Linked DNA regions of Homo sapiens: all the other regions are reported to be linked to region 5. The links are microRNA targets in miRTarBase. Many come from high-throughput screens and were not tested one by one. Region 5 holds a microRNA gene; each other region holds the end of a gene's coding sequence.

What was found. The annotated mature microRNA hsa-miR-3190-5p reads UCUGGCCAGCUACGUCCCCA and lies in region 5 at 2,826-2,845, opposite strand. An mRNA with a match to its seed (bases 2 to 7 or 8) in the 3' UTR can be bound and repressed. Matches are read on the target gene's strand: a 7mer-m8 pairs with bases 2 to 8, a 7mer-A1 pairs with bases 2 to 7 and ends in A, and an 8mer does both.
Region 1: miRTarBase lists EVC as a target of hsa-miR-3190-5p. Seed matches in the 3' UTR shown: 7mer-m8 at 2,798-2,804 and 7mer-A1 at 2,709-2,715.
Region 2: miRTarBase lists WDR13 as a target of hsa-miR-3190-5p. Seed matches in the 3' UTR shown: 7mer-A1 at 2,555-2,561, 7mer-m8 at 4,088-4,094 and 7mer-m8 at 4,492-4,498.
Region 3: the mRNA of C2orf49 is a reported target of hsa-miR-3190-5p. Seed matches in the 3' UTR shown: 7mer-m8 at 5,367-5,373.
Region 4: miRTarBase lists EMC7 as a target of hsa-miR-3190-5p. The part of its 3' UTR that is shown has no 7-base or 8-base seed match.

The regions. Positions count from the first base shown.
Region 1 is chr4:5,810,174-5,816,217 of GRCh38, reverse strand. It overlaps EVC (EvC ciliary complex subunit 1), which reads right to left. Exons shown (of 21, transcript NM_153717.3): 20 at 5,768-5,879; 21 at 1,913-5,265. The coding sequence ends at 5,181. Among named protein-coding and RNA genes, the nearest start is that of CRMP1, 80 kb to the left of the region's middle. RefSeq lists an enhancer at 3,187-3,236.
Region 2 is chrX:48,603,485-48,609,605 of GRCh38, forward strand. It overlaps WDR13 (WD repeat domain 13), which reads left to right. Exons shown (of 10, transcript NM_001347217.2): 9 at 788-906; 10 at 1,364-5,385. The coding sequence ends at 1,548. Among named protein-coding and RNA genes, the nearest start is that of WDR13, 9.1 kb to the left of the region's middle. RefSeq lists a silencer at 2,657-2,951.
Region 3 is chr2:105,344,953-105,351,052 of GRCh38, reverse strand. It overlaps C2orf49 (chromosome 2 open reading frame 49), which reads right to left. Exons shown (of 4, transcript NM_024093.3): 4 at 1,842-5,738. The coding sequence ends at 5,682. Among named protein-coding and RNA genes, the nearest start is that of C2orf49, 10 kb to the right of the region's middle.
Region 4 is chr15:34,079,538-34,085,658 of GRCh38, forward strand. EMC7 (ER membrane protein complex subunit 7) reads right to left here. Exons shown (of 5, transcript NM_020154.3): 5 at 4,480-4,949. The coding sequence ends at 4,797. Among named protein-coding and RNA genes, the nearest start is that of EMC7, 19 kb to the right of the region's middle.
Region 5 is chr19:47,224,800-47,229,799 of GRCh38, reverse strand. MIR3190 (microRNA 3190) reads right to left here and starts at 2,858; the gene lies at 2,779-2,858. BBC3 (BCL2 binding component 3) reads left to right here. Exons shown (of 4, transcript NM_014417.5): 2 at 1,354-1,642; 3 at 3,046-3,236. The coding sequence starts at 1,369. MIR3191 (microRNA 3191) reads left to right here and starts at 2,781; the gene lies at 2,781-2,856. RefSeq lists silencers at 1,304-1,743, 2,964-3,263, 3,633-3,799, 3,294-3,853 and enhancers at 1,776-2,718, 3,927-4,426.

The DNA.
Region 1 (6,044 bases), not on the chromosome of region 5:
CTGCAGGCTATGTCGGTGGGCAGGAGGTGCATCAGGAAGTGGACCAAGTCCATCAGCGGGAGCCCAGTGGGGAAAAAACAGATCCCCAGGCCTCCTGTCCAATCTGCTGACTCAGAATCTCTGGGATGGGGCTAAGAATGTTGTTTTTAATGAGCCCCTGGGTAATGCTGACACACAGCCAAATCTATAAGCCATGGGGGGAAAATAGTATTCCTGGCCTCCCTCCCTCCCTCCTTCCTTTCCAATCCATACACCACAGGAGGAAAGTATATACTCAGCGTTCCTCCCTCCCTTCCTTCCAAACCAGTTGCCACAGGAGGAAAGGAATATTCCCAGGCCTCCCTCCCTTCCTTCCACCAGGTGACCATGAATGCCTGTTATATGCCAGGTGGCATGTGGCCGGTCAATGGTGTACATTCCAGGGGGGACGTCAGGTGCGAATCAAATGATTACTCAAAGCACCGAACTGCACACTCTGTTAAGGGCTATAGAGGAAACATTTAGGGGAGAATAATCCCATCTCCCACTCCTCTGGTTTCCATAGAGGGAGGGGCTTCCACTCTCTGGGGGACAGCACAAGGGACTTCCCTGGCCCCTCTCCCTCTCTCTTTTATTCTTCTCTGGGGAGGAGGAGAAATACCTGATTGGCCAGTCTGGGAAGGATCACTCCCAAGACAGTGCCTGCCTCTGGATCGATTCGTTCCCCCTATAAATCACGCTTTACCCTCTAAACGGCCACATTTCCCCCATTTCCCGTCTCCCTATGAGGGTGTGGAAGCACCTGGACCTCACTGGTTTGTGGGGTCATCACTCTCCTGCAATTCCCCATGCCATGCACGTTACGTTGGAATGCTTTTCTTTTTCCTATTGGTCTGCCTTTGGTCAATTGTTTCTCAAGGAGCCTTCGTAGGGTGGAGGAAAAGCTTGCCCTCTGTGCCCCACAGCTGATTCACTGTAAAGCTCATGGAGCTCACACTTCTGCCACCTGTGCACAGACCCCACCGAGACCCGGGAGTGGGCTTAGCCACGGGTTCACTGACACATTCCTTACAGTTTACAATGCCACAGTCAGATCTTTTAGCTGCAATCCTTAAGACCACTGTTCCCTTTCCTGCTGATGCCACTGCATATCAGGTGACACTAGGGAGGCCTGGGACATTTGGAGGATCTGGGTAAGGGCCAGTTGAGTTGGGTTTAGTGGGATTGTTTATGTGGGTCTCACTGTACACCTCTGTGTATAGTGATGAACTTGGACAAGAAATAAAGGAAGGTTATTTATATGCTCCCCCACCGACCTCACCCCAGTCCCAGCAGCAAAGAACACAGGACCTAGAATCTAAGGGGGGCCCTGATGTTGTTCAGGGTTGGGGGCAGAGGGGGATCTCTGGAGATGTGAGTCCTGACTCCATGTGAGGAGTGGCTAGGAGCCACTGGGCAGAGGGCTGGGGAGGGGGGCAGGGGTCTTCCAGAAAGAATGCACATCATGAGCAAAGGCCCAGTGGGGGGCAGGGGTGTGGCCCATGTGAGGCCATGAGAGAAGACAGGGACCAGGTGCAGAGTGAAGGGGAAGGGCATCTGCTAGGCCGCAGGGGTGGGCTCAGCCTAGACCTCTCTGAGCCTCATGGTCCATGGTAAAGATCTGGCTTTTTCTCCTAAGAGCCAGGGAACGCCGCCCATAAGGCCAGGCAGATTTGCGTTGGAGAACATGTGATGGGCGGATGGCAGGGGCAGGAGAGGCTTCTGTGGCAACAGCAAGATCAGCACCGCCCTGGCCAGGGCCTCAGAAGGAATGTGGTGCAGAACGTGACCCCTGGTTGGCCAGGAGGGTCCTGGGAGAGTGCACTCACCCTGGGGGAGTACAAAAAACCGTGCTGGCTTCATCCTGCGGTCTCAAGTACAGGTCAGAGGGTGCTATTTTCACCAAAGAATTAAATCATGAGTTCATCATAATACATCATCTCTCATGGTCCCCTTCCAAATCCACATCCATCCATCACCATAACAGCCCACAGCCCATAATAAGTGGGGATGGTAACCAAAATGGAGGCAGGGTACCTGCGAGGCATCCTGGGGCTGCACTGCTGATCCTCTTCTCTCTCCCCTGGCCCTGAGTGCTGCCTTCATGTGGCTCAGCCCTTCCGTCCTTCAAGCCTTCATCAGCTTCAGGGCAGCCCCGAGTCTGTGCCCAGGTACACTGGCTAAAATGCAGTGTCTTCCAAATAGCCATATCTCATTTTAATCAGGGAGCAATTCCAGCATGGAAGTCCCCATCATGCTCCTGCTGGCAGGTACAGGTGCCAGTTTGTGACGGATGAAAGCACCGACAGCCCACGCGTCTTCATCATGGAGGCCTGTGCCCCAGACTGTGCCCAGCACAACAGCTGGGCGGCAAGGGTGGGCCAGGGTCGAGCAAATGACACGTTCCCTTTGGCTAAGGAAGACACCCCAGAAGCAAAATGCTCCATGCGACAGCCAGGCATTCAGGCTACAAGCTCGGTGGCGGGGAGGCAGCCGGGAGCCTTCTCAGAGGAGAAGGGTCCCGTGATCATTCCACAGATGCTTTCAGAGCTCTGGGCTCAGGGTAACCGACCAATTATGGTGCTGCCAGAGGGCCTGCATTTACTATACACACGTCACAAAATCAGGCTTCCCCGGGAGGAGCCATCGGACTCTGTGCAGAGGGCCCATGTGACAATATAAAAGTGATTTCTGGCCGGGCGCGGTGGCTAACGCCTAATCTCAGCACTTTGGGGAGGCCGAGGCAGGTGGACGATGAGGTCAGGAGTTCGAGAGCAGCCTGGCCAGTATGGTGAAACCCCGTCTCTACTAAAATAAAATACAAAAAAGATTTAGCCAGGCGTGGTGGCACACGTCTGTAGTCCCAGCTACTGGGGAGGCTGAGGCAGGAAAATCGCTTGAACCCGGGAGATGGAGATTGCCATGAGCCGAGATCACGCCACTGCACTCCAGCCTGGGCAAAAGTGATTTCTATGCAAAGCAGGTTTTAAGAATATTGCACCAAGGAAGCCATAGCTTTGCACAACTCCATGGAATAACCAAGTTTTTTAGTGAACCACAAGAGGGAGCTGTTGGTTAACTTTGGAGAGCCCACTGGCTGATGGGTGAGGAACTGAAGGAAGCGCTCTGATGATTAAGTTTTGGCCACTGGGAAGGAGTCACTTGTTTCTAAGAGAGTCTATTTCAGGTTTTAAGAAATGAAAAGTCACAAATGACCCTGAAAATTCCTGAGATAGGGGCTCCCAGAGCCAGAGGGCTCACTAGGTTCTGGGGATTTTTGGACGTATCCACGGCTATGTCCTGGATTAGACCAGGGCAAGGCACCCTTTGACTCAGCACAGTGGGTGATAACCCCATGGACACGGGGCAGTGTCTGGAGACATCCTTGGTTGCCACGAATGGTGGGAGTGCTGGCATCTGGTGGGCAGAGACCAGGGACACTGGAACATCCTGTGATGCTCTGGGCAGCTCCTTCCCCTGAAGAATGATCTCGCCCGGTATGTTCACAGTGCTGAGGGTGACAGTCCCTAACCTCCATCAAAGGAGCAATTTTCCCTCCAGGTGGGAACGGCCTCTCCTGGCTGTGGTGAGAGGGGCTGGTCTGGAAGTTTCTCTCCAGGTGGGAAAGGCCTCTCCTGGCTGTGGTGTGAAGGGCTGGTCTGGAAGCTTCTCTCCAGGCAGGAACGGCCTCTCCTGGCTGTGGTGTGTGGGGCTGGTCTGAAAGTTTCTCTCCAGGCAGAAAAGGTCTCTCCTGGCTGTGGTGTGAGGAGCTGGCCTGAAGCTTCTCTCCAGGCGGGAAAGGCCTCTCCTGGCTGTGGTGTGAGGGGCTGGTCTGGAAGTTCCTCTCCCGGTGGGAAAGGCCTCTTCTGGCTGTAGTGAGAGGGCTGGTCTGGAAGTTTCTCTCCCGGTGGGAAAGGCCTCTCCTGGCTGTGGTGTGAGGGGCTGGTCTGGAAGTTTCTCTCCCGGTGGGAAAGGCCTCTCCTGGCGGTGGTGTGAGGGGCTGGTCTGGAAGTTTCTCTCCAGGTGAGAAAGGCCCCTCTTGGCTGTGGTATGAGGGGCTGGTCTGGAAGTTTCTCTCCAGGTGGGAAAGGCCTCTCCTGGCTGTGGTGTGAGGGGCTGGTCTGGAAGCTTCTCTCCAGGTGGTAAAGGCCTCTCCTGGCTGTGGTGAGAGGGGCTGGTCTGGAAGTTTCTGTCCAGGTGGGAAAGGCCTCTCCTGGCTGTGGTGTGTGAGAGGCTTGTCCGGAAGTTTCCAGGCGGGAAAGGCCTCTCCTGGCTGTAGTGAGAGGGCTGGTCTGGAAGTTTCTCTCCAGGCTGGAAAGGCTTCTCTTGGCTGTGGTGTGAGGGGCTGGTCTGGAAGTTTCTCTACCGGTGGGAAAGGCCTCTCCTGGCTGTGGTGAGAGGGGATGGTCTGGAAATTTCTCTCCAGGTGAGAAAGGCCCCTCTTGGCTGTGGTATGAGGGGCTGGTCTGGAAGTTTCTCTCCAGGTGGGAAAGGCCCCTCCTGGCTGTGGTGTGTGAAGGGCTGGTCTGGAAGCTTCTCTCCAGATGGGAAAGGCCTCTTCTGGGTGTGGTGAGAGGGCTGGTCTGGAAGTTTCTGGATGCTCTCAGCATCTATCAGGGAGAGCAGGTGCCCCCATGACATCTCTCTGCACGGGCAGGGTGTCTACTGTCCGGAAGAAGCCCCTCCCCAGGTGAAGTGAGGGTTGGGCCACACCCTCTTCCTCATATTCTAAGTGTCCTCAGAGAATACATTTCTGCAGGTGTCATTATGTATCTGTGTGTCCTCAGCCCCAGATGGGCCCAGACAGGCCTTTGGGCCAGGGATTCCAGAGTCTGCATCAGGGGTCCTTGGCCTGAGGCTCGGACCCCTCAAGACGTCCCTCCTTGGGGAGAAAGATCCATGAGGCATCGAGCCAGGGCTCCAAGCCAAATGAAATGCAAACTCACAGAGACGTGTTTCCAAGACGGGAATGCCTAATTTTCTCAGGTGATACTCATTTATGCTTTTAGGGCACATTTCTATTCTTTCTCTGTCCCTCTCAGAAGAGCCTAGAGATGCCGCTGTCCTCTCCGTCCTCGCTGCCTCTCAGCACTGCAGGAGGGAAGGTGGAATTCACACCCAGACCCAGGGCTTCAGGTCTTGTCCCACCGACTGGTCTTAAACTACAAGTTGCTTCTTCTCTTTAGCATCTTCTTTGAGTTCCCACTGTCCCCAGCTTCACTTTCTTGCTGACTCAGCCTTTTGCTGCTTAAAACAGAGAAGAAAGGCAGCCAGTTAGAACGCTGACTCCATGCCCATCATGATGCCATAACTTACCCAATCGGATTAAATGAAAATGCAGCCAAAGGTGATCAAAACAATTTTTACTTTGACATGGGTTGTTAAGAAACCAATAAAACCCGTTTCCCTCCTTGGGTAGGAGGTCATCCAAGTGCCATGACCACAGCCATCCCTGGTCAAAGAAGGGACTGCCCAACACTTCAGGCTGGATGCCAATGGGGTGTGGAGGTAGGTCAAGGCTCATCTGGCCAAATGAGACACAAACAGGAAGGGTAACAGCCATGTGGCACCCCTGGTATCATCATGGCTTACTGCCCACAAATTACGTTCATATCTGTCATTTCTTGAACCTTCACATTTAATGCCTCTGAGGGGACTGATGATTTTCCTGCCCTGACTTTTGGCACACAGCAGCTGAGTGCATTTACCAAACCCAGCCACAGGCAACAGGTCCGGGGCCCAGTCATACCTGAGTGAGCCTGAGGTCTGGTCCCCGGAGGCAAGGTCCTCATTGTTGGGCACCCCCAGGTCCCCTCTTTCCTGGGGCAGGGGCTTCTTCCTTTTAGTCCTTAGGGGCTTCTCTGTAGAGGACAGATGAACCCAGGCATGGCTCTGTGACTTTAGACAAGTGACAACTTCTTGCAGCCTCACACCAACCCAGCCTGACATTTTTGAGCATGTTGTGTGGGCCAAGTGTATGCTTGGTATCTTATGCTATTGCAGCCACTCAACTAATGAGGAAACTG
Region 2 (6,121 bases), not on the chromosome of region 5:
TAAAAATACAAAAATTAGCTGGGCATGGTGGCAGGCGCCTATAATCCCAGCTACTTGGGAGGCTGAGGCTGGAGAATTGCTTGAACTTGGGAGGCGGAGGTTGCAGCGAGGCGAGATCGTGCCATTGCACTCCAGCCTGGGTGACAGAGCCAGACTCCATCTCTTAAAAAAAGAAAGAAAAAAGAAATGGCCTTTCCTACATTTCGAGTTTCTCACCAGGCAATGCCTTGTGGAAACCCCCCCAGGTTACCTGTGGGGACAGTGTTTTATTCTCTCTAAGGGCTGTGCAGTTTTCCACAGTGTGGGCATACCATGGTGTGTTCATTTCCTCTCTTTGTGCTTATCTTAATACCAGGATCTTTTAGAGACCCTTACAAAGAAAAACTAGTGAATGAAACTGCAGAGGCTCCCATTTATATCAACAGAGACAGTTTCTGAACCATCAGTAACTCACACATCAGCCCCTACTTATAGTTTATGTAGTCATCTCAGAATTGGGTTTCATAAGCTGGGTGTGGTGTGTGCCTATAGGTAGTCCCGGCTACTCGGGAGACTGAGGCGGGAGGATCACTTGAGCCTAGGAGGTTGAGGCTGCAGTGAGCCGTGATCGCACCACTACACTCCAGCCTGGGTGACAGAGTGAGATCCTGTCTCAAAAACAAAAAAAAAAATATGGGTTTCATGAACCCTGTAAAGAACTTAGGCACAGGGGTGGGGACACAGGCCCACAACTTGTCTCCCTGCTAGGGCTGGGGCTGTGTTTTGACCCACTCTCTCATCCTCTCAGGGTGGTAGACAACGAGGGGACCCTGCAGCTGAAGAGAAGCTTCCCCATCGAGCAGAGCTCACATCCTGTGCGCAGCATCTTCTGTCCCCTCATGTCCTTCCGCCAGGGGGCCTGCGTGGGTGAGTCCTGTAGGGACAGGGGATCTGGGTGGCTGGGGAGGGGCAGGAACCAGGGCTGGTGCCAACCTGGCTCAGACATCACGACACCGATGCCCTGACTTCCTGGACCTCATGACCCCTCCTGCCCCAACAGCCTCACTGTGGAACTCACAGCTCCAAACAGCTCAGAGAACTCACAGTTTGCACTTGATCTCGGCCAAAAGGCCGAGAAGTGATGAAAACTCACACTTTGAACGCACTAACTCCCCAAACAGCCCAGAGACCTCGCATTCTGCACACAGTACCAAAACAGCCAGGTGACCTCCCATCTAGGGATGGGGCCCCCTCAAACCTCCCCAAGCCATGCTAGGACCTCACACCTCGGACATACACCCTTCAACACCTCAGACACCTCAGGGACTTCCCACCAGGGGCACCCCAGGCGCCTCCCGATGGCCTCTCCCTCTCACCCCGACAGTGACGGGCAGTGAGGACATGTGCGTGCACTTCTTTGATGTGGAGCGGGCGGCCAAGGCTGCTGTCAACAAGCTGCAGGGCCACAGTGCACCTGTGCTTGATGTCAGCTTCAACTGCGACGAGAGCCTACTGGCCTCCAGTGACGCCAGCGGCATGGTCATCGTCTGGAGGCGGGAGCAGAAGTAGGGTCCTGTCGGCCCTGCTGCTGTCCTCCATCCCACCCCTCTTACTCCAGCCTCGTGTTGTAAATAAAGTTTCGGTGGTCATGCTGAGGGCCGGCTCCCAGCTCTGCCGGGGACGGACAGGGCAGAGGGCAGCGGGCAGCTCCAGGAACACGGTGGAACGGGGTTCATTGACTCATTTGTGCATTCATGCATCGACGGATTCATTCATTCCACAAGCATTGATTGAATGTCTGCTGGGTTACAGGCCCTGCCTTAACTGTTTTACACACTTATGCATTCGATAGACATTAGTGAGCCCTGACCGTGTGCCAGGAACTGTTCTAGGCACTGGGGATACTGCTCTGACCTAAACTGATGGAAATGCCTGCCTTCATTGGGCTTGCATCATAGCGGAGACAGTAGATAAAAACATGGAACAGGCCAGCTAATGATGAGTGGTATGAAGAAAATAAAGCAAGGATGGGAGACAGAGCTGCAGAAGTTGGGGGAGTGGGCTCTTTATGGTGACAGCATCAGGGAAGATGATCCTGACAGGGTGACTTTTTTGTTTTTGAGACAGGGTCTCACTCTGTCACCCAGGTTGGAATGCAGTGGCATGACCATAGCTCACTGCAGCCTCAACCTCCAGGGCTCAAGTGATCCTCACTTAAGCCTCCCAAGTAGCTGGGACTACAGGTGTGTGCCACCACACTCGGGTAATTTTTGTATTTTTAGTAGAGACGGGGTCTCGCCATGTTGCTCAGGCTGGTCTTGAACTCCTGGGCTCAAGCGATCCACTCGCCTCAGCCTCCCAAAGTGCTGGGATTACAGGCATGAACCACCACGCCTGGCTCAGGGTGACATTTAAAGACCTGAATGAAGTGAGTGGGAGTCATAGTGTAGGGGGAGAACATTCCAGGCAGAGAGAAAGCCAGCCTAAAGGCACTGAGGCTGGAGCGCTCCAGAAGGATCATTGTGTATGCCAGAGTCTTGCTGGACCAGAGTGTGACAGTACATGAGGTCAGACAGGCCAGATGCTTCATGGGCCACAGTTAGGACTTTGGCTTTTTTTCTGAGTGGGGGTGACCAGAAGGTGTCAAGCAGAGGAGGAACATGATCTGACTTGGTCATAGAGGCTCCCTCTGGCTGCTGAAGGGGACAGATTGGGGGTGGGGGTAGAAGCAGGGGACCCAGCAGGAGACCCCTCTGAGCGCAGTGATGGGGACTTGCACCAGGGTAGTGACAGTGGAGGAGTTGGCGGGGGAATGTTGGGTCGGACCCCCAGGGGGTTCACTATGTTAGGCTGCAGGACTCTGCTGCCTCCTCAGGGGGCGATATTCCCAACCCTTCTGTGCATTGTGTTGTTTATTAAAAGCAGGGAGCAGAGGTGTTGAGTCCTGGAGCCCCAAGCTGGTGCAGGAGCAACGGGAAGTTAAGGCTGACCTGGGGCCTCCTGCTGTGTGGCGGAATCTCCATCCCTCAGACCACCCCTGTCTCCTCCCAGCCCCATCCAGGGTACAAATTCCAGCCCTGGAACAGCTCAGAGACCAAAAAGTGATGTTAAGTATTTGAGGGGAGCCCCAAGAGAGGAGAAAAAGCTTTGAGTATTGATGGGGGTAAATAACCAAAATCACTTATCAGTGGCCTGCGTCACCAGAAAATGTCAAAGTTACCTGAAGCAGCAAAGAGGCTCTTGCTCCGGCCCCTCCCTTCCTTCTCAGCTCCATTTGTTGCCACATATGCGTTGACTGGAACTGCGACTGACATCTTGGGACCTTAGGGTCAGTCCACAGCGTGGTAGAGACTCCAGCTTGGCCCAGCATTGCTGAGCTGCTGAACTCGCACCAACAGTCTTGTTGGAGGGAAATAATCTCCCGTTTGTTCAGTCCAGTTATTTGACAGTGTGGTTACTTGCACCCCAAGCATTTCTAACTGGCACTTCCATCTAATAGACCTCAGGGTACATGGTGGTGAGATAGGGACATCAGTGAGCTGGATTGTTCCCATGGTAAAGGTCATGTATGTGTGTGTGTGTCATGGTCCTCAATACCAGCCCCAAGCCCAGTGATTTGCTAGGAGGACTCCCAAGACTCAGTATGTGGTTGTATTCATGGCTACGATTGACTTATTACAACAAAAAGATATGGAGCAAAATCAGCAAAAAGAAATGGTGTGCAGGACCAACTCCCAGAGAGACCCAGGCACAAGTTTCCAGGGCTTCTCTCTCATTGGAGTCACACAAGATGTGCTCGGTTCACAGTAATGGGTTGTGACAATACATGCGAAATGTTGCTGACCAAGGAAGCTCAATTAGAGACTCAGCACCCAGAGGTTTTTTTTGTTGTTGTTGTTGTTTTGGTTTTTTTTTGGCGGGGGGGGGGGGGTCTTGCTCTGACGCCCAGGCTGGAATGCAGTGGCATGATCTTGGCTCACTGCAGCCTCCACCTCCTGGGTTCAAGCGATCCTCGGGCCTCAGCTTCCCGAATAGCTGGAACTACAGGCGCGCACCAGCAAGCTCGGCTAATTTTTGTATTTTTAGTAGGGATGGGGTTTCACCATGTTGGCCAGGCTGATCTTGAACTCCTGACCTCAAGTGATCCTCCCACCTCAGCCTCCCAAACTGCTGGGATTACAGGCGTGAGCACCTGGCTGGTATCAAGTTTTTATTGGGGCATGGTCACATAGGCACCCCCTGCCTGGCACCTACCCAAATCCCAGGCTCCCAAAAGGAAAGCAGGGGCTCAGCATAAACCACCTTTTTTTTTTTTTTTTTAATTGAGACGGAGTCTCGCTTTGTCGCCAGGCTGGAGTGCAGTGGCGTGATCTCGGCTTACTGTAACCTCCGCCTCCTGGGTTCAAGCAATTCTCCTGCCTCAGCTTCCTGAATAGCTGGGACTACAGGCGCCTGCCACCACCACGCCCAGCTAATTTTTGTATTTTTAGTAGAGACGGGGTTTCACCATATTGGCCAGGCTGGTCTCCATCTCTTGACCTTGTGATCCGCCTGCCTCGACCTCCCAAAGTGCTGGGATTACAGGCATGAGCCACCGCTCCTGGCCCACTTTTTTATACAAACAGCTTAGGTAGAGTAAGCCATTCTTTTTTTTCTTTCTTTCTTTTTTTTTTTTTTTGAGACAGGGTCTCACTTTGTTGCCCAGGCTGGAGTGCAGTGGCTCAAACATGGTTCGCTGCAGCCTCAACCTCCCAGGCTCAAGCGGTCCTGCTGCCTCATCCTCCAAAGTAGCTGGGACCACAGACATGCACCACCATGACCCCAGCTGATTTTTGCAGAGATGGGTTTTGCCATGTTGCCCAGGCTGGCCTTGAACTCCTGGGCTCAAGTGATCCTCTCACCTTGGCCTACCAAAGTGCTGGCGTTACAGGTGTGAGCCACCACACCCGGCCCGAGTGAGCCATTCTTATCTCTTAGGGAATGGTGGGAACCCTCCTGGAGTCTATGTTCTTAGACACCACCCAAGGGCCAACCTTGAAGCAGGCCTTTCCAAGGATCGCAGTTGAGGCCTGCTCTGTTACTGTTTTTCTGCACAGTGTGCAACACCACACAGATGCCCAGTTTCTACCAAGGTCTGTGGATGGCAGGATAATTTTGAGGAACCTCCTTTTTCGCTAACACTTTCTTCTTTTGTTTACACTCTTCACATTGTCTATTGAGTCTGGATTCAAGATGATTGATTGTGAATATTGTTGTGCATGATTTTGGGGGTTTCCTCCTTGTGAAATTTTGAGGTGGCAGATTTGACATTCTACTTTAAACTCATCTTGGTGGCACTTTTCTTGACTCACCACCTAAGGGGGAATAAATAATGAAGAAAGAATAAAAATAGTGTTATCAGTCACATTTGGGCCTCGGTTAACTTGTTCAGCATCACTGGTTTCACATCAGATCTGAAGCTCTGTCAATCATTCCACTATCAATTCCACTCTGGTCTTGCCTCAAATCGAGGCTTCGATTAACTGTTCCCTGCCCTTTGTCTGACTTTGAACCTGTGTGTTTGTCAACTACTTTACCATCAAGAGCCTCTCTGGGCCAGGTGCAGTGGCTCACACCTGTAATCCCAGCACTTTAGGAGGCCAAGGCAGGCGGATCACGAGGTCAGGAGATCGAGACCATCCTGGCTAACACGGTGAAACCCTGTCTCTACTAAAAATACAAAAAAATTAGCCGGGCGTGGTGGCACGTGCCTGTAGTCCCAGCTACTCGGGAGGCTAAGGTAGGAGAATCACTTGAACCCGGGAGGCGGAGGTTGCAGTGAGCTGAGATCGCGCCACTGCACTCCAGCCTGGGTGACAGAGCGAGACTCCGTGTAAAAAAAAAAAAAAAAAAAAAATGGCTGGGCTCGATGGCTCACACCTGTAATCCCAGCACTTTGGGAGGCCAAGGTGGGCAGATCATGAGGTCAGGATATCAAGACCATCCTGTCCAACATGGTGAAACCCCATCTCTACTAAAAATGCAAAAATTAGCTGGGTGTGGTGGCGCGTGCCTGTAATCCCAGCTACTCGGGAGGCTGAGGCATGAGAATCACTTGAACCCAGCAGGCAGAGGTTGCAGTGAGCCGAGATCGCGCCACTGC
Region 3 (6,100 bases), not on the chromosome of region 5:
TACTCTTCAAAACTGTCATCAAAAACAAGGAAACTCTGAGAAACTGTCACATCCAAGAGAAGCCTAACATGACATGACAACTAAATAACATGGTACCCTGGGTAGGATCCTGGAACAGTAAAAGGGTATTAGGGAAAAACTCAGAAAATCGAAAAAAATTAAGAACTTTAGTTAACAATGAGTCATTTCAACAAAGGTACCATATGAATGTATGTTAGTAGGGAAACAGTGTGGGGTATGTTAAAAATCTGTACTACTGTGGCAATTTCTCCAGAAATCTAACTGTCCTAGTTTATTTTTTAAAAGTTTATTTTAAAAACTTATATAGCAAGGCAGAACAGACAAAACAGAAGGCTTCGAAAGATAGGATGGTTTTATATTTATGAAAAGCATTTGTCTTTCACCATAACTGGTAAAGCATTTTACAGTCTCCTAAATGTTTGTTAGTCAAAGAAGTAAGTTTTAGTTTAAACTATTTACCTGAAGATTAAAAAAGAAAACAACACTTGGCTAATTTTACTTGAGGATAAAAGACAGGGCTATTACAGACTTACTCAACTAGTCTATTTTTGATTAAACTGAATGCTTGGTTAAGTCTCAACAGAGTTAACAAACAGCTTCCAATTGGTATTAGAATCAAATCCAAAGTCCTACATTCATACATCATCTGGCTCCTGCCTACCTTCTTTGACTTCATTTTATACTACCACTGCCCGTTTTCATTCACTGGAGCCACACCAGTCTTTCTGTTCTAAGAACCTAGTAAGCCTTAGGGCTTTCATGTTTTGTCCTTGTCTGGGACCTGTTAACTACTGCTGGGTAGCAAACTACCCCCGACACTTAGTGGCTTTATACAACTCCCATTTTATTCACTCATGATTCTGAGAGTCATCAATTTGGACTGATCCCACCAGGAAGCTCATCATACAACTTTAGTCAGCCGGCAGCTAGACCGGGGGGGATAGGTGACTAGTGGTCACATCTGGCAGTTAGTGCTGGCTGTTGGGTGAGCCATGTATTTCCAGTGGGTATGCCTGGGCTTTTTCACATGGCTGCAAGCAGAAGTCCAAGTGTAAGAGTAGAAGCATTCACTTGATCAAAGCAAGTTACAAGGCCAGGTCCACATACAAGTGGTGGGAAGCTGACTCCAGCCTTGATGGGAGGAGTATGCAGCCATCTAAAACTGGACACATGTAGAATGCTTCTCCTGAAAGCTCTCCATAGCTATGCCTTAGGCATGCTCTCTTCAAAATATAGTATCTTCAGAGGCCTTTCCTAACCACTGTATTTAAAATAGCTTCTCATCCTACTTTCTTCATCCTTCACCATTTCTTGACCCTGTTTTACTTTCTACCATTACAATTACCCATTATTTCATGGTTCACTGTCTGTTTTCTCTATGAAAGCAAGTACTTAATCTGCCTTGTTCATTCCCAAGAAAGAGCTAGCATAGTAGGTACTCAACAAATACACAGGCAATTCTAATCTCTATTTTTTATTCCACAATAAGATGATCAAGCTACTAAACAACTGAAAAAGCAATGCACTTTAGTTAGTAAAATGCACTTTAGTAAAAACAATCTAAGTGGAAATAAGATTTTTGTCTCTTCTGTCCAGACAAAAAAAATGAAGAATCTATGTGTTAAGTACAAAGTAGAAGCTGGGTGTGCTGGTGCATGCCTGTAGTCCCAGCTACAGGAGGCTGAAGCAGGAGGACCACTTGAGCCAAGGAGTTCAAGGCTGCAGTGAGCTATGATCATGCCACTGCACTACACTCTGGGCGACAGAGCAAGACCTCATCTCTAAAACAAAACAAAAGACAAAGTAGAAAGTTACCTGAGTCTTTTCCAAGTTATTTAATTTACAGCATCAGTCTCCAAATATAATAATATTAAGATAGCAGTTTAGAAATTAACTTTTTTTCAGATCACTCTAACATAAAATCTCTCAACTGAATCTCTAGTTTGTCTCATTTTGTTAAGAGCTTTAATATTACATGGGAAGTTCAGAGACTTCTATTTCCATCCCTCAACATGTAGTGACAGTCAACATGTCAGGCTCTGTAGCACCGTGATATCCCAGCACCAGACCACTCCAGCCACCCTCTCATTCAAAGAAGGGCTACAAGATATGGCTGGACTACTCGAATCACATCTGATCTTAATCAATCCAGGTATAGAAAGTTGTACTATAAAGAATACTTTCCAAAATTGTTCACTCAAATAAAAACAGATCAAGTCATTACAGAGCATTTTTCCATTTTAATAAGAATAACAGACCTACTCAAGGTAATTTTATTCTGTTTATTTAAATAAGGATAAGACTACTTAAAAGACTTTTTACATACAAAAATGTACAAGGTTAAACTTTTCTGTACTGAATTACAAAACCTGCACAAGCATGTAATAAAAGAGCACACTTAAAAACATTCTGACCATTATTTAGCCTCTAAAAATTACTGAAGTTCAACAGTAGTAAATAGAGGAAGCTCTTACATATATATATATATATATATATATATATATGATTTAATCTACTGGCAGTTTTACTTAATGTAAGTATTTAAAAGGTCACATTGCTATTGAATGAGTCTCTAGATCAATTTTAGAATTGTCTCTCAAAACTTAAGTCAACCAAAATATTATTTCAAATAGTAATTCCAATTCTGAAGAATTTTAATACCAGCAAATATATTATGGCCTCATAGTAGTAACTGAACCAACTTTCCAAAGTGCCTGGTAGCTGTCCAGATGAATTAGGCTGCTTTGGAAAACTGTACTGTCTCTACAGCCATTGAGAAGCCATTCAGTGCCCTGGTAGGGACCTGAGACTTTCCAGAATTCACACAGCAGTCTATGATCCCTCAAATGTAAGAGGACAGGGGGTCAGCCTATCTTCACCTCTCAGTGAATGTGGAGGGCCAAGCAATATGACTTGCAAACCTAAGCTAGAAGCTTGGGATCTACAGTAAGGAGGAAGGAGAATTAAAGTAGAGAAAGAAAATGTATAAGGAGAAAGGGAAAAGAAGGAACAAAGAGGGAAAAGAAAAAACAAGGATGCCTGCTAATGGCAGGAAGTGGTAAAGTGCCTATAACTACAACTTACAAGCCACCCACTAATTCTAATGCCATTCATTTGCCTACTCCAATAATAAGAAAAGCTGGCTTTACTGGAATATAGAATCTAGAGCAACATTACCCGCCTCATGTTAGTGAGTAACTAGTATTCTAAAGTTGTTTGCCATACATATCAAGTTCTTCTAACCTTTGAAGCAAACCAAAACACTTCAAAACTCAGGGCTCCCAGGGCTGCTGCTCCAGATTCCCAGCATTCAGCATGCTTCATTATGTGGAGAAAGACATTTCAAGACAAGCTGTATCTATACACCTTCAGAAGGAACAAAGCTCTAAGAAGGTGGGATTATGTTAACACATAGTACATGGTTTAGCGTTTCTCCACATTTCAAACTCAAAATAGCTCAATAATATGCTGCTACATGAGCATTGATTCTGAATGTTCATAATATAAACTTCAATTTGAAGCAACAATGTTACACAGTTCAGCTGTTATTACCAACCTACTCTGTAAGTTAAAATACAAATAAAATATTAATTTTATTGAGTAACTAAAAATAAGTTCCCACTGACTTAAAATCGTCAAATGGCTAACTCTCTCTCAACTAAGAGAGCAACACAGATGGAAGCAGAGAGGACAACTGAATATAAAATAAAATTTGTCAATCTACTCTATAATCTGCACTTTTAAAATCCCCTTTTGCATATATGTATGTATAGGATCACAGTTGCCCACCAACATTATGTCTGTCAGCCCTGCAGATAACAATTTACTGTAACGTTAACAATTTATGCAATACTTAGTATGTTTTATCTTATGTGTACAGATTTACAGTTTGGAATAAAGGCAGAATGATTAAAAACTATTGGGTTAAAGTCTTAGTATGGTACTTACCTGCAAGGCTGAATTAATTTTTTGGAAGGCTATTCAATAGCTGAACTAAAATGCTTGTTTAACAAATCAAAAGAGGAATAAGACTACTTTAAAACATATTGAAAAAGGTAAATCCCAATTTGAAGATCAATCATATAACGAAAAAAGTATGAAGTATCCTTTGCTCTTGCTTAGAAACACATAGCAGAACAGTAGAAACTAGAACTCATGAATATAAGGTAAACCCTATTTTCCCACTGATTTCCATTATACAATTGGAGTGAAAATACCACTCAAACAAAAATAAACAAAAAATCTTAGCAGGTAATTCTGTGTAGAACAGCCATGTGGGAATTGTCTATATTACAGCTGCAGGGAATCTCATGTAAGCTAGGAGTCCATCTTCCTATGTTGCACTCTGCAGTGACTTCTGACTCCAGTAGCTCCTCTATTGCCTACTCCATATTACGCTAATTTTTGCCCCTGACTGCTATGCTTCCTGGACTCTTATAAATTCTAGAATTCTACCCCCACTCCTAACTCTCTAAACTTTCTTCCATCGAATACCACCTCTAACATGATTACTCTGCCTGAAGACTTTTTAAATCAACTTCATTTTGAAAAGATTAAGCTCCCACGAGCGAGTAATAGCTGAACTCACAGAGTGAGATCACAGACTGCTCATGAAAAGAGTACGTAGGACTGCTACATGACAAGAACATTCTAAAGGATGGGCCAGGTACAGAATCGACCAGTCAACTCATAATATATGTATCAATTGTTACAACTTCAAGGAAAGGAGCAATAGCAAGCACTGATTCCTTTTTGCTTTTTATGGGAAGAAGCAATGTAAGCAATTAAAGAACAGCATTTTTATCTGTATATTCTGAATAGTTTTCCAGCACTACTACAAAGATGCTTTTCTTGGTGAACATTTAAGGATGAATGTTGCAGTATTTACTAAAATACTGTGATAAATTGGTATATGCTTCTGCTTTGTAAAAGAAATAAAATGGCAGGCAAACTAGTAAAATATTTGAGTTTTTAAAAAAAATCTCAAAAATCTCAAATTTCCCCCAAAGACTCTGAACAAGGCTAATGAGAGTAACTCCGAAAATTCACTGAATGCTTTTTTTTTTTTGAGATGGAGTTTCGCTCTTGTTGCCCAGGCTGGAGTGCAATGGTGCGATCTTGGCTCCCCGCAACCTCCGCCTCTCAGGTTCAAGCGATTCTCCTGTCTCAGCCTCCTGAATAGCTGGGATTACAGGCATGCACCACTATGCCCAGCTAATTTTGTATTTTTTAGTAGAGACGGGGTTTCTCCATGTTGGTCAGGCTGGTCTCAAACTCCTGACCTCAGGTGATCTGCCCACCTCAGTCTCTCAAAGTGCTGGGATTATAGGCGTGAGCCACTGCGCCTGGCCAATTCAATGGATGCTTTATAGCACATTTGTAGCTAATAATTTCAGTAGGGTCAATATAAATGACATATACTAAGCCATTGGTTTAAAAAGATATTCTTTCCTAATCAGGGCAAGACAGGCAAGAATTTTAAAAAAGGAAGGGAGGGAGGGAAGAAGGGAAGGAAAATAAATCCTTTATTTTTTTAAACCTATTTGAAACCTCTTAAGAAAATTCCACAATAATCAGGATTTCTGTAAATATTGTCAATATATATGAACATATTTGAAAAACTACAGTTACAGTATATTTACATTTTTGGAAACTTTTCTTCAGGGCCAAGTAACATGTTGTATCTTCCTTTTTGCTTGTGGGGGCTTCAGGTTATTCTGAAAGACATGAACAGAAATCAGTTTATACTTGCAGAAATATCAGAAAACAACTAAAATGAACATTTCAAACAACCAAGGTTTACTATTAATGTATTAATGGAAGATCACTGCTGCCATCTGGTGGGAATATATTTAAAGAAACAGGGGTGAGTTCTCTAGCTCTGTGGTTCTCAAATGTGTGTAGTTTAGAATAACTTAGAGCACTTAAAAACATGCCCCAGGCCTGGTCTTATCACAGAACCAATTAAACCAGAATCCATAAAAGGTAGGGGGATAAGGCTCTGACTTCTTTTTGCTTTTTTTGGAAGCTCCTCAAGTGATGTTAACATACAATCAGAGTTGAAAACCACTGACTGCTC
Region 4 (6,121 bases), not on the chromosome of region 5:
GCTGGGTTTAAATACAAAATGTACATACATGATTGTAACCATGCAAATGTATGTCTATATGTGACCCGAAAGGCAATAAGCAAAAATGAAAATAGTGGTTTAAAATATTTAATAAAAATATTTTCAGTAACAGTTTTTAAACAAAAGATACTCTAGTTGAGCACTTAAAAAAAAAAGAAACAAGCCAGGTGTGGTGGCTCACACCTGTAATCCCAGCACTTTGGGAGGCTGAAGTGGATGGATCACGAGGTCAGGAGATCGAGACCGTCCTAGCTAACACAGTGAAACCCCATCTCTACTAAAAATACAAACAATTAGCCAGGCATAGTGGCGGGCACCTGTAGTCCCAGCTACTTGGGAGGCTGAGGCAGGAGAACGGCATGAACCCGGGAGGTGGAGGTTGCAGTGAGCTGAGATCGCGCCATTGTACTCCAGCCTGGGCAACAGAGTGAGACTGTCTCAAAAAAAAAGAAACAAAAAACACTCAAAACTTCCTGAAAGTCTGAGTGACTAGTTAAATGAAAAGCTCTCCCTTATCTTTATGGACACTGCTTATCAGGACCTTCAAACCCTTCCAACTACTGAGAAGTATGCTGTGTGATAGTATCTGCCCTCCTGTCAGGGAAGGCATAAGGGAAAAATGACAAGATGGTTTTCTACTCAGGGCAGTTTAGGTAAAATCCTGTATCTTTTCAAAATGTTAACCAGATCTAGGGTAAATCCTGAGGTTTTGGCTCCCAAAAAACTGTTTGAAACTTGGGAGCAATAGAGATGTCCTGGAGAAATCATCCTGGACATTCAGGACTTTTTGGCAAGAATGGACAGCAAAATTTATTTTGCACAAAGTCACTGTTCAGATTTAATTCAGTAGATGTGAAAAATTATAAAACACAAAACTTACATTTAAAAGAAGATACATAGTGACCGGCTCATGCCTGTAATCCCAGCACTTTGGGAGGCCAAGGCAGGCGGATCACTTGAGGTCAGGAGTTTGGAGCCAGCCTGGCCAACATGGTGAAACCCGATCTCTACTAAAAATACACAAAATTAGCCAGGGGTGGTGGCACTCGCCTGTTATCCCAGCTACTCGGGAGGCTGAGGCAGAAGAATCGCTTGAACCTGAGAGGCAGAGGCTGCAGTGAACCAAGATGGTGCCACTGCACTCCAGCCTGGGTGACAGAGGGAAACTCCCTCTCAAAGAAAAAGAAATAATATATATATATATATATAATAAAATTTTAAAAATAAATAAAAGGAGATACATATAAACCAAATCTAACAAAGGCTCTAAAGAAGAGCAAAACAATACTTTGTTCCAAATGGGAAATAGCAGAAAGAATCCAAGGAAGTAAAATAAGAAAGCCAGCACTGATCATATGGTTCTTAAGGGTAGGAAATACTAGGACTGGGCTAAAAGTATAACAGAATTTGAGATTTCAAATTTGAAATTTCAAAAAGAAATTTACAGGTCTAATCCAAATCCTTCCATTTATAGATGAGGAAACTTAAGGTCCATTTATTATTCATTCAACAAACTTTTATTGGTGTGCCTACATGCTAGATGCTAGAGATAGTACAAAGACCAAGACAAGACATGGTCCAGGACAGTGACTTGCTCAAAGTCACAAAGCAAGTTAGCAGCTAACCAGGGGCTCTTTGCACTAAACCCCATATTGTCCAATAATATATAGTCATTTCTGTGCCTATAAGCACCTTAAGCATTTGATGATGGTTCTATGAAAATATAAGATTTTCATACACAACTGATACATTTCATAAGGGGTATATATTATATTTAGAGGTAATATGATAAGGGGTATACATAATATATAAGGGGTATAGATTATATTCAGATGCTGTTAGAATCCATGTAAAATAACCAGTTTCTTATGTAGCATATGAAACAGTAATTTCCTTGGAAGTGCTTCCTAATTTCTCAGTCATTAGGTGTTGTGCAAATGTTGACAATCTAAATTATAAAATTTTTATTTATTTTTTAAGTTTGGGGGTACATGTGAAGGTTTGTTACACAGATAAACACATGTCACAAGGTAAATTATGAAATTTTAAAACATGGTTTCTGGTCATATGACTCTTACTATGTCTCCTTTGAATTACAAAGGAGAATGTCATTTTTTTAACTTAATGTTTAAGTGAAAATTAGAACACTAATTTTTTTTTTTGAGACAGAGTCTCACTCTGTCATTACGCTGGAGTTCAGTGGCGTGACCTTGGCTCACTGCAACCTCCACCTCCCGGGTTCAAGCAATTCTCCTGCCTCCGCCTCCCAAGTAGCTGGGACTACAGGCGCATGCCACCATGCCCAACTAATTTTTGTATTTTTAGTAGAGACGGGATTTCACCGTCTTGGCTAGGATGGTCTTGATCTCTTGACCTCATGATCTGCCTGCCTGGGCCTCCCAAAGTACTGGGATTACAGGCGTGAGCCACCGTGCCCGGCCTAAAACACTAATTTTAAGTGAAAATTAGAATACTAGTTGAATGAACGACATTTAGCTAGTGTTCTAACACTTTATTTTCATAAATGACTCGATTTTAAAAGACCTACTTCTATCATTAACCTGTTGACCCATCTAATCATTCATAGCTTAACCAGTTTGGTAACAGTGTATGTAATATAAATAGAAACAGTTAATAAAATGTTCTGCATCAGAACTTTTTTTTTTTTTTTTTTGAGACAGAGTCTCACTCTTGTCACCCAGGCTGGAGTGCAGTGGCATGATGGCTGACTGCAACCTCCACCTCCCCCAGGTTCAAGCAATTCTCCTGCCTCAGCCTCCCCAGCAGCTGGGATTACAGGCGCCTGCCACCAAGCCTGGCTAATTTTTTGTATTTTTAGGAGAGACAGGGTTTCACCATGTTGGTAAGGCTGGTCTCAAACTCCTGACCTCAGGTGATCCTCCCACCTCAGCCTCCCAAAGTACTGGGATTACAGGCGTGAGCCACAGCGCCCGGCCCAGAACGTATTTCTTTAAGAGAAAACACGTACCTCATTTTTAAATGAACAATAGCACCTAATACAAAAGAGAAAATTGAGTTTGGAAGCTACTCTGTTTTTTTCACTGATTTAATAACTTTAAGAAAGCAATACAGGAGTTATTTAATATGGGAAAGAATAGGAACCCTCTACTAGAAGCAGTACTGTGGCCTGAGAGTTCTTTAATTAAAATAACCCAAAAGGAAAAGGTGTGAAAATGTTGTAACTTATTGAAATAAAAAACTTTTGAGATACTCCCGATTGGAAAGTAGTTATTTGGCCAGGCACAGTGGCTCACAGCTGTAATCCCAGCACTTTGGGAAACCGAGGCAGGCAGATCAACTGAGGTCAGGAGTTGGAGACCAGCCTGGCCAACGTGGTGAAACCCCATCTCTACTAAAAATACAAAAATTAGCTGGGCATGGTGGCACATGCCTGTAATCCCAGCTACTTGGGAGGCTGAGGCAGAAGAATCGCTTGAACCCAGGAGGCAGAGGTTGCAGTGAGCCGAGATCGTGCCCTTGCACTCCAGCTTGGGCAACAAAGGTGAAACTCTGTTTCAAAAAAAAAAAGAGACCAGGCGTGGTGGCTCACGCCTGTAATCCCAGCACTTTGGGAGGCTGAGGCGGGCAGATCATCTGAGGTCAGGAGTTCGAGACCAGCCTGGCCAACATGGTGAAACCCCGTCTCTGCTAAAAAATACAAAAATTAGCTGGCTGTGGTGGCCAGTGCCTTAATCCCAGCTACTTGGGAGGCAGAGGCAGGAGAATTGTTTGAACCCGGGAGGCGGAGTTTGCAGTGAGTCGAGATAAAGCCATTGCACTCAAACCTGGGGTACAAGAGCGAGACTTCTCTCAAAAAAAAAAGAAAGTAGTAATTTATCTTCTAACACCTCTGAGAATCTATGATGAGAAAGATGAGGGGACTGAAAAGCTACCTGTGTTATATATCTCTGTTACAATATGGAGGTCTAAGGTTGATTCCCCATCCTCAGGATCTAGAAGGCTCTCCTACTGTTGTACTTCTTTCCCCTGGCCATTCATTCCCTGTTATTATTTGTCCTCCCTCCCGACATAATAAGTTCTATCAAGGAGAAGCACTTGTATATTATCCATCTCTGTATTCTACCTTGCATCACAGCACAAAGCTGGTACTCAATAATTGTAAGACGAATACCATAGATGGTAACCAGAATAAAATAGTTGATAAGATCTATTGTGATTCATATATCCATACTCTGAAACTAACTGTAATAATAAAAAATTGAAACTACATCAGCAACATATGGCTCAGATTATCAGAGAATTAAATGGCAGAGAGCTGAAAATTTTGAAAGGTGTGGCCACATAAAAAACAATGTGCATGCTGTCTAAAAATAACAACCACTCCCTTTTAAAGAGGAAAGGTAAATTTCAAGCCTCAGATAATTGAAGAAAATTGTCAGAAAAAAAGAAACATTAAGTAAAAAAAAAGAAAGATGATTTGATTTCTGGATTAAGATGTTTTAATTAATATACATAATGTATAGTAGTTCATATAATTTATTAATGGCATTTTCTATAGGACACTGTAATTAATTCAGTGACATCAATATTGACCTCATACAGACAAAAGATGAAAGCTGGGTTTTCTCGTGTACCAAGTACAAAACATGTGCTAAAAAGTTAACATACACAGTTGTAAGAGATCAACGTCGGGATGACTCAAGTTTATAGTAGTTGCTTCACACGGTTTTCCAAGACTTGGATGCCACCCAGTGTTGCCGTGTTTGTGCAAATGCCAGCTCTGGACGGCCTGACTACCTCCTTTTGCCAGCCCCACTTTTGCCTGTTTTACTGCTGCCGCTGCTAGATTTGCCAGATGATTTTGAAGAGAAGAGTCTTGTCATGAACTCAGAAACATCAGGCAACTCATGGTTGGAATTCAGCATATTCATTGACTGCTCCATTTCCTGCAAGAAGACAAGGCACAATGATATGTAGGATCCTTCGAGTCTTTTAACTCCTAACACTTCCTATTAAGGAAAAAGTAAAGGAGTAGAACAAGTGAAAGGTACTGGTTCTGAGCAATGATGCAACATCATACTCAGTAGTACTTCACCTATATATCATTAGTAACTATTTTCCATATCTCCTTTATACCACTAGACATTTTGACTCTTAGTAAATGTCCAATAAATGACTGCCTAGGGTTTGATTCTGCTTGCCTTTTTTTTTTTTTATTATTATACTTTAAGTTTTAGGGTACATGTGCACAACGTGCAGGTTTGTTACATACGTACGCATGTGCCATGTTGGTGTGCTGCACCCATTAACTCATCATTTAACATTAGGTATATCTTCTAATGCTATCCCTCCCACCTCCCCCCACCCCACAACAGGCCCTGTGTGTGATGTTCCCTTTCGTGTGATTCTGCTTGTCTTAATAAAGAACACTTTTTTCTGATACTGAATATATTTGATCATATTCCTCTCTTATTTTATGTTTTCTGATTAAAGTGATTTCTTATTGTTTTAATGAGTACATTTTTAAGTTCATGCTTCCTTTAGATGCATATAACCAGAATATTAATTTTTAACTATATATCAAGGTATCAGTACAGTTTGGAAAATAAGTGCAATATTTCTAAGAATTCATTTATAAGCCTCAGTAGTAAATCTATGAATGCTGTATGGCTTGCATGACTTCAATTAGACTCTAAAGCAAGCAACACACTGTTACAAAGAAGTCATTGGCAAAACAGGATAGGACTTGGCACTTTTGAGTATTTGTCCTCCCCTTTAATTGAGCCAAAAATCTATAAAGTACTGTTTGATAGTTATATAATATTAATGTAACATCTGCTTCATTTAAATTTTAAGTGACATTCTCAAAGTGAACTTAAAATTGACTTTAGTTCATTCATACATGAAAAAGATAGCAAATACTATATTATCTATCATTTCTTTCATTTTTTTCTTTTCTTTTTTTTTTTAGGAGACAGTGCTCAGGTGATCTTCCTGCCTCAGCTTCCTGGGCAGCTGGGACTATAGGCACACAGCACAGCACTAGGCTTCCATTTCAAATTGAACACTGTTGGGATATTAGCTTGAGCTTTTCCCACAAAGGTAGAATTGATTCCTA
Region 5 (5,000 bases):
GTTGTTTCAGTCTGGGTTTGGCTTGTGTGTCTGGCATCAGCGTCTGGGATTTGAGGACCCAGGATCTGTGGGGTCTATGCAGTGTAGACGGTGGGTGTTGCTGGCAGCCTCTGGATGGGGTTGTGTCTGAGCCTGTGTGTGTGTGTGTGTGTTGGGTCTGAGGGGCTTGTCACTGTGATCGGCTGGCTCATGTGTGTCATGTGGGCTGCGTGTGTGTAGTGTTTATGTCAGTCACGTGAGACCAGTGTTTTCTGTGGGTGCGCTAGGTGTGTGTGCTGCTGGGCTGTGTGGGATTAGAGTTAGCTGTAGGGTGTGTGTGTGTGTGTGTTGCTGACAGTTGGTGATGATGTTTGAGGGTTGCGTGAGGAGGGTGGGTTGGTGTCTGGTGGTGTGTTGAGGTCTGATGGCATGTGTCTGTGTGTGCCTGATCTACGTGTGTCCTGAGAGTTGGTGACATGTGGGTGTGTTTTGGGGGTGTTGATGTATGTGTGTCCGTGGGTGTCTGTTTTGTGTTGATATGTGAGTCCAGAGGTGTGCAGGTCTTATCTCTGGAGTGAGTGTGTGTGTGTGGAGAGGGGCATGTTTGGGAACTGAGGCAGTGCCTAGCTTGTGTGTGTGTGTTTGTGTTTGCAAAGGCTGCATTGTGTTTGCATGTGCCCCTGGGCATATCAACAGTGGGTCAGTGTGTGAGACTTTGACAGTTTGGATGTGTGGGGATGGATTGTGCCAGCCAGTGTGCGCAGTATGTAGAGTGCTTGTGATGGTCTGTCTGGATGCTCCTGCTTTGGTCGGGGGTGTGTGTGTATTGTGTGTACTGAGTAGTGATGTCCGAGACTGGGGCCATCTCAGTGTTTGTGTGCAAGTGGGAGGTGGGGTGGGCGGTCAGGCTGGCCAGTCCCGTGTGAGTCCTTGTGTGTGTGCTGTGGGGGCCTCGCTGTGCCTCACTGCCCTCCCTGTGTGCCCGTCGCTGTGTTGGGAAAGTTGTCCCCACCAGCCCATGCTGTGAGTCCCAAGTGGAGTGAGTTTGTGTTGTGGGACTGTCACAGCCCTCATACACACACCTGCTAGACCCCTCCATCCGTCCTGTGTGAGCCCTGTCCTTGCTGTGAGAGCCGTCCTGTGCCCCCTGTCCCTCCTGTGTGCCCATCACCGTATGCACGGGAGGCTCTCCAGGCCAGCCAGGACCCGGTGGTGTCATCCCCCGGCTGGGCGTGTCTCTGTGGGGCCGTCACCCCCTCCGCATGCACACACACCTCCACTCTTCTCCATCTGGGTCCTAACCCCGGGTAGGCTGGAGGTACAGTGGGCCCTGGTACTTCCCTGCTGACCTGCTCCTCCTCCCGTGTCCCGCAGGCCCCAGGGAGCGCCATGGCCCGCGCACGCCAGGAGGGCAGCTCCCCGGAGCCCGTAGAGGGCCTGGCCCGCGACGGCCCGCGCCCCTTCCCGCTCGGCCGCCTGGTGCCCTCGGCAGTGTCCTGCGGCCTCTGCGAGCCCGGCCTGGCTGCCGCCCCCGCCGCCCCCACCCTGCTGCCCGCTGCCTACCTCTGCGCCCCCACCGCCCCACCCGCCGTCACCGCCGCCCTGGGGGGTTCCCGCTGGCCTGGGGGTCCCCGCAGCCGGCCCCGAGGCCCGCGCCCGGACGGTGAGTGCCCGCCCCGCCCCCGGGGTGATAGGAGCCGGGAAGAGAGAGGGCTGGAGACTCGGAGGAACTGGAGAAGTGGGAGAGGACGGGGGGAGGTGGCGGGCCCAGCCGGGCCACTGGGAGGGTGTGGCCAATGTGGTCTTTGTGTTGCAAGAAGCAGGAAGACGGAGGCTGGGGGTGGAGGGGGAGGTCAAGTGGGAAGTCCCTCCTGGAATCTGACTGCAGTCCCCGAATTGCAGCCCACTGTCTCTTCCGGGCCTGGGGCAACAGCTGCATCCCAGCTCCCCTCCCCCAGTCTGGGTCCTCTAGACCCCCTGGAGGATTCCTGTTGCAGGGAGAGTGGGCCGAGCGGGAGGACTGTCAACTCTGGCCTCTGGGGAGGGGTCGAGAGGCCTTTTGCTTTTATTTGCATCTCTTTGGCCAGGGGCTGTCCTCAGCAGTCCCGGCGGAGGAAGGAGAGGGGGAGGGGCCATTGTGTTGGGAAGTCCCCTCGGGGAGGTGGGGGAGTCTTGGGGAGGGAAGGGTTAAAGGTCCCCTGCCTGATGGGCTGTTAACCCTGTGGTGCCCGTGGAGCCCCATCCCTGCCGGCAGGCGCTCTAGGGAAAGTGTGTCCTGGTTTCCCATCCCCCATCTTGTCCCGGCAGCCCAAGGGGAGCGAGGAAAGAGAAAACTTCCCTAACTCAGTTCCTGGAAGCCCTGGAAGGGGACACCGATTTCAAGGCCAAGGTCACAGATGTGGAAACTGAGGCCCTGGCTGTAGGCCTTAGGGAACCCTCAGGCCAGGACCTGGTGGGACGGGAGGGCAGGAGCCTCCTAGGGCGCTCAGAAGTGGGGGGGGGGGGGGGGCAGGAAGGCATCTCCCGCGTCCCAGCCCCCCAGGCCCGCGCTCTGAAGCTGCCACAGTCTCTGGCCTTCTGGTCTCTAGGCCTCTGCCACATCCGGAGGTGTGGCTTCCCTGTGGTTGGACACGAGAGGGCAGGAGACCTGAGGCTTGTGATCTGGGTGGGGTCAGTCACTGTATCCCTGTGTGACCTTGGGATACTCCCTAAGGGCGGGCCTCAGTTTCCCTGCCTGTCACATGGAAAAGGCAAAATGTGGCCCCTTTGGAAAATAGAGGTCGTTAAGCCTGACCACCCCCGGGGTCACCTCTCTGGCCGTCTACCTTCCACACTGACAAGGGCCGTGGGGACGTAGCTGGCCAGACAGGTGACCCCAGAGCGGCGTCCCCAGGTACTTCTTGCTTTCTGGTGCCTGTGGAGGAGAAGCTGAGAAATTGACTCACTAGCGATGGGATCACTAGAAATGAGGCGGGGAGCAGTGGCTGGGAAAGAGGGGAGCAGGCCGAGACACCTCGAGGCCTGGAGGGGTGGTGGGTGCTGACCGCGCCCCTCTGCCTCTCCAAGGTCCTCAGCCCTCGCTCTCGCTGGCGGAGCAGCACCTGGAGTCGCCCGTGCCCAGCGCCCCGGGGGCTCTGGCGGGCGGTCCCACCCAGGCGGCCCCGGGAGTCCGCGGGGAGGAGGAACAGTGGGCCCGGGAGATCGGGGCCCAGCTGCGGCGGATGGCGGACGACCTCAACGCACAGTACGAGCGGCGGGTGAGTGCTGGGGGTGGGGTAGACGGCAGGTGGGACTTCCGCCGGAGGAGGGGGCGGCAGGCGGCCCCCGCCAGATGTGCGGCAGCTGCTGCCCTGCGCGGCTGGGTCGCTCCGCGGACAGGCAGGTGGGGGGTAAGTGGGTGGGGGGGAATCGCGCGCCCGCAGAGCCGCCCAAGGACTCCGCGCCGCGGCTGGCATAGCCGGAGCCCGAGCCAGGGCCAGGGCCAGGGCCAGGGACTAGGCCGCCGAGGAGTGGAGCTGCGCGCCCGTGGCCCGCGGCCGCGGGGACTGAGGGCGGCGCTGGGCGGCGCGGCTCATATATCCCGGGCTATTTATAGCCGGTGAGTCAGCAGCCGCGCCGCGCCCGCCCCCTGCCGTCCCTCTCGCGCGGCCCGCAGCGCCACACAGTTTCCCGGGCGCCGGGGCGGGCCGGGGACCGCAGGGGTGGGCTCGCAGCCCCGCCCCGCGGGAGGCCCCGCCCCCCAGCCCCTGGCACGGCCTCGATTTTTTAAAACAAATATTCGAAGCCCACAGCAGAGAATGGGAAATCACAAACATCATGCGCCCACCAGGCAGCTCTGTTCAGTTTGAACATTACACCCGCATTGCTTGCTTATTAAGAAACCAAACAAAACCGCAGAAACGCATGTGGTGAAGCTCCTTACTCTCCCCATCCCTTCCCCCTCCTTGCATCCAAAGGAAATCTCTCGAGTTGGCCTCTCTCAACCCCTGCAGGTGTTGCTTTTACTCCGTATTTACCAGGCCAGAACCAGGGCTTAGAATCATGGAGCATTCTTAGCTTAGCGTATATGACATAGTTTTTGTTTCTCCCCAGAATTCCTTTTTCCCTCAATATTAGGCTTCAGATTCACCATATGGGCAAAAGAGCTTCCATTCATCTATGTTCAGCCAGGCACGGTGGCTCACTCCTGTAATCCCAGCACTTTGGGAGGCGGAGATAGAAGGACGCTTGAGCCCAGGAGTTCCAGACCAGCCTGGGCCACATAATGAGATCCCCGTTGCTACAAAAAATACAAAAATTAGCCGGGTGTGGTGGCGCGGGCCTGTAGTCTCAGCTACTTGGGAGGCTGAGGTGAAAGGGTCCCTTGAGCCAAGGAAGTCGAGGCTGCACTGAGCCATGAAGGGTCACTGAACTCCAGCCTGGGGGACAGAGCAAGACCATCTCAAAAAAGAAACAACAAATACAGCCATTTTCGGCCTGGTGCAGTGGCCCACGCCTGTAATCCCAGCCCTTTGGGAGGCGGAGGCAAGTGGCTCACTTGAGGTTGGGAGTTTGAGACCAGTCTGGCCAACATGGTGAAACCTCGTCTCTACTAAAAATACAAAAATTAAGGCCGGGCGTGGTGGCTCATGCCTGTAATCCCAGCACTTTGGGAGGCTGAGGAGGGCGGATCACCTGAGGTCGGGAGTTCGAGACAAGCCTGACCAACATGAACAAACCCCGTCTCTACTAAAAATACAAAATTAGCCAGGCGTGGTGGCACATGCCTGTAATCTCAGCTACTCGGGAGGCTGAGGCAGGATAATTGCTTGAAACCGGGAGGCAGAGGTTGCGGTGAGCCGAGATCGTGCCATTGCACTCCAGCCTGGGCAACAACAGCGAAAATCTGTCTCAAAAAAAAAAAAAGAAACAAAAAGTAGCTGAGCATGGTGGCACACGCCAGTAATCCCAGCTACTTGGGAGACTGAGGCAGGAGAATCTCTTGAACCCAGGAGGTGGAGGTTGCAGTGAGCCGAGATCAG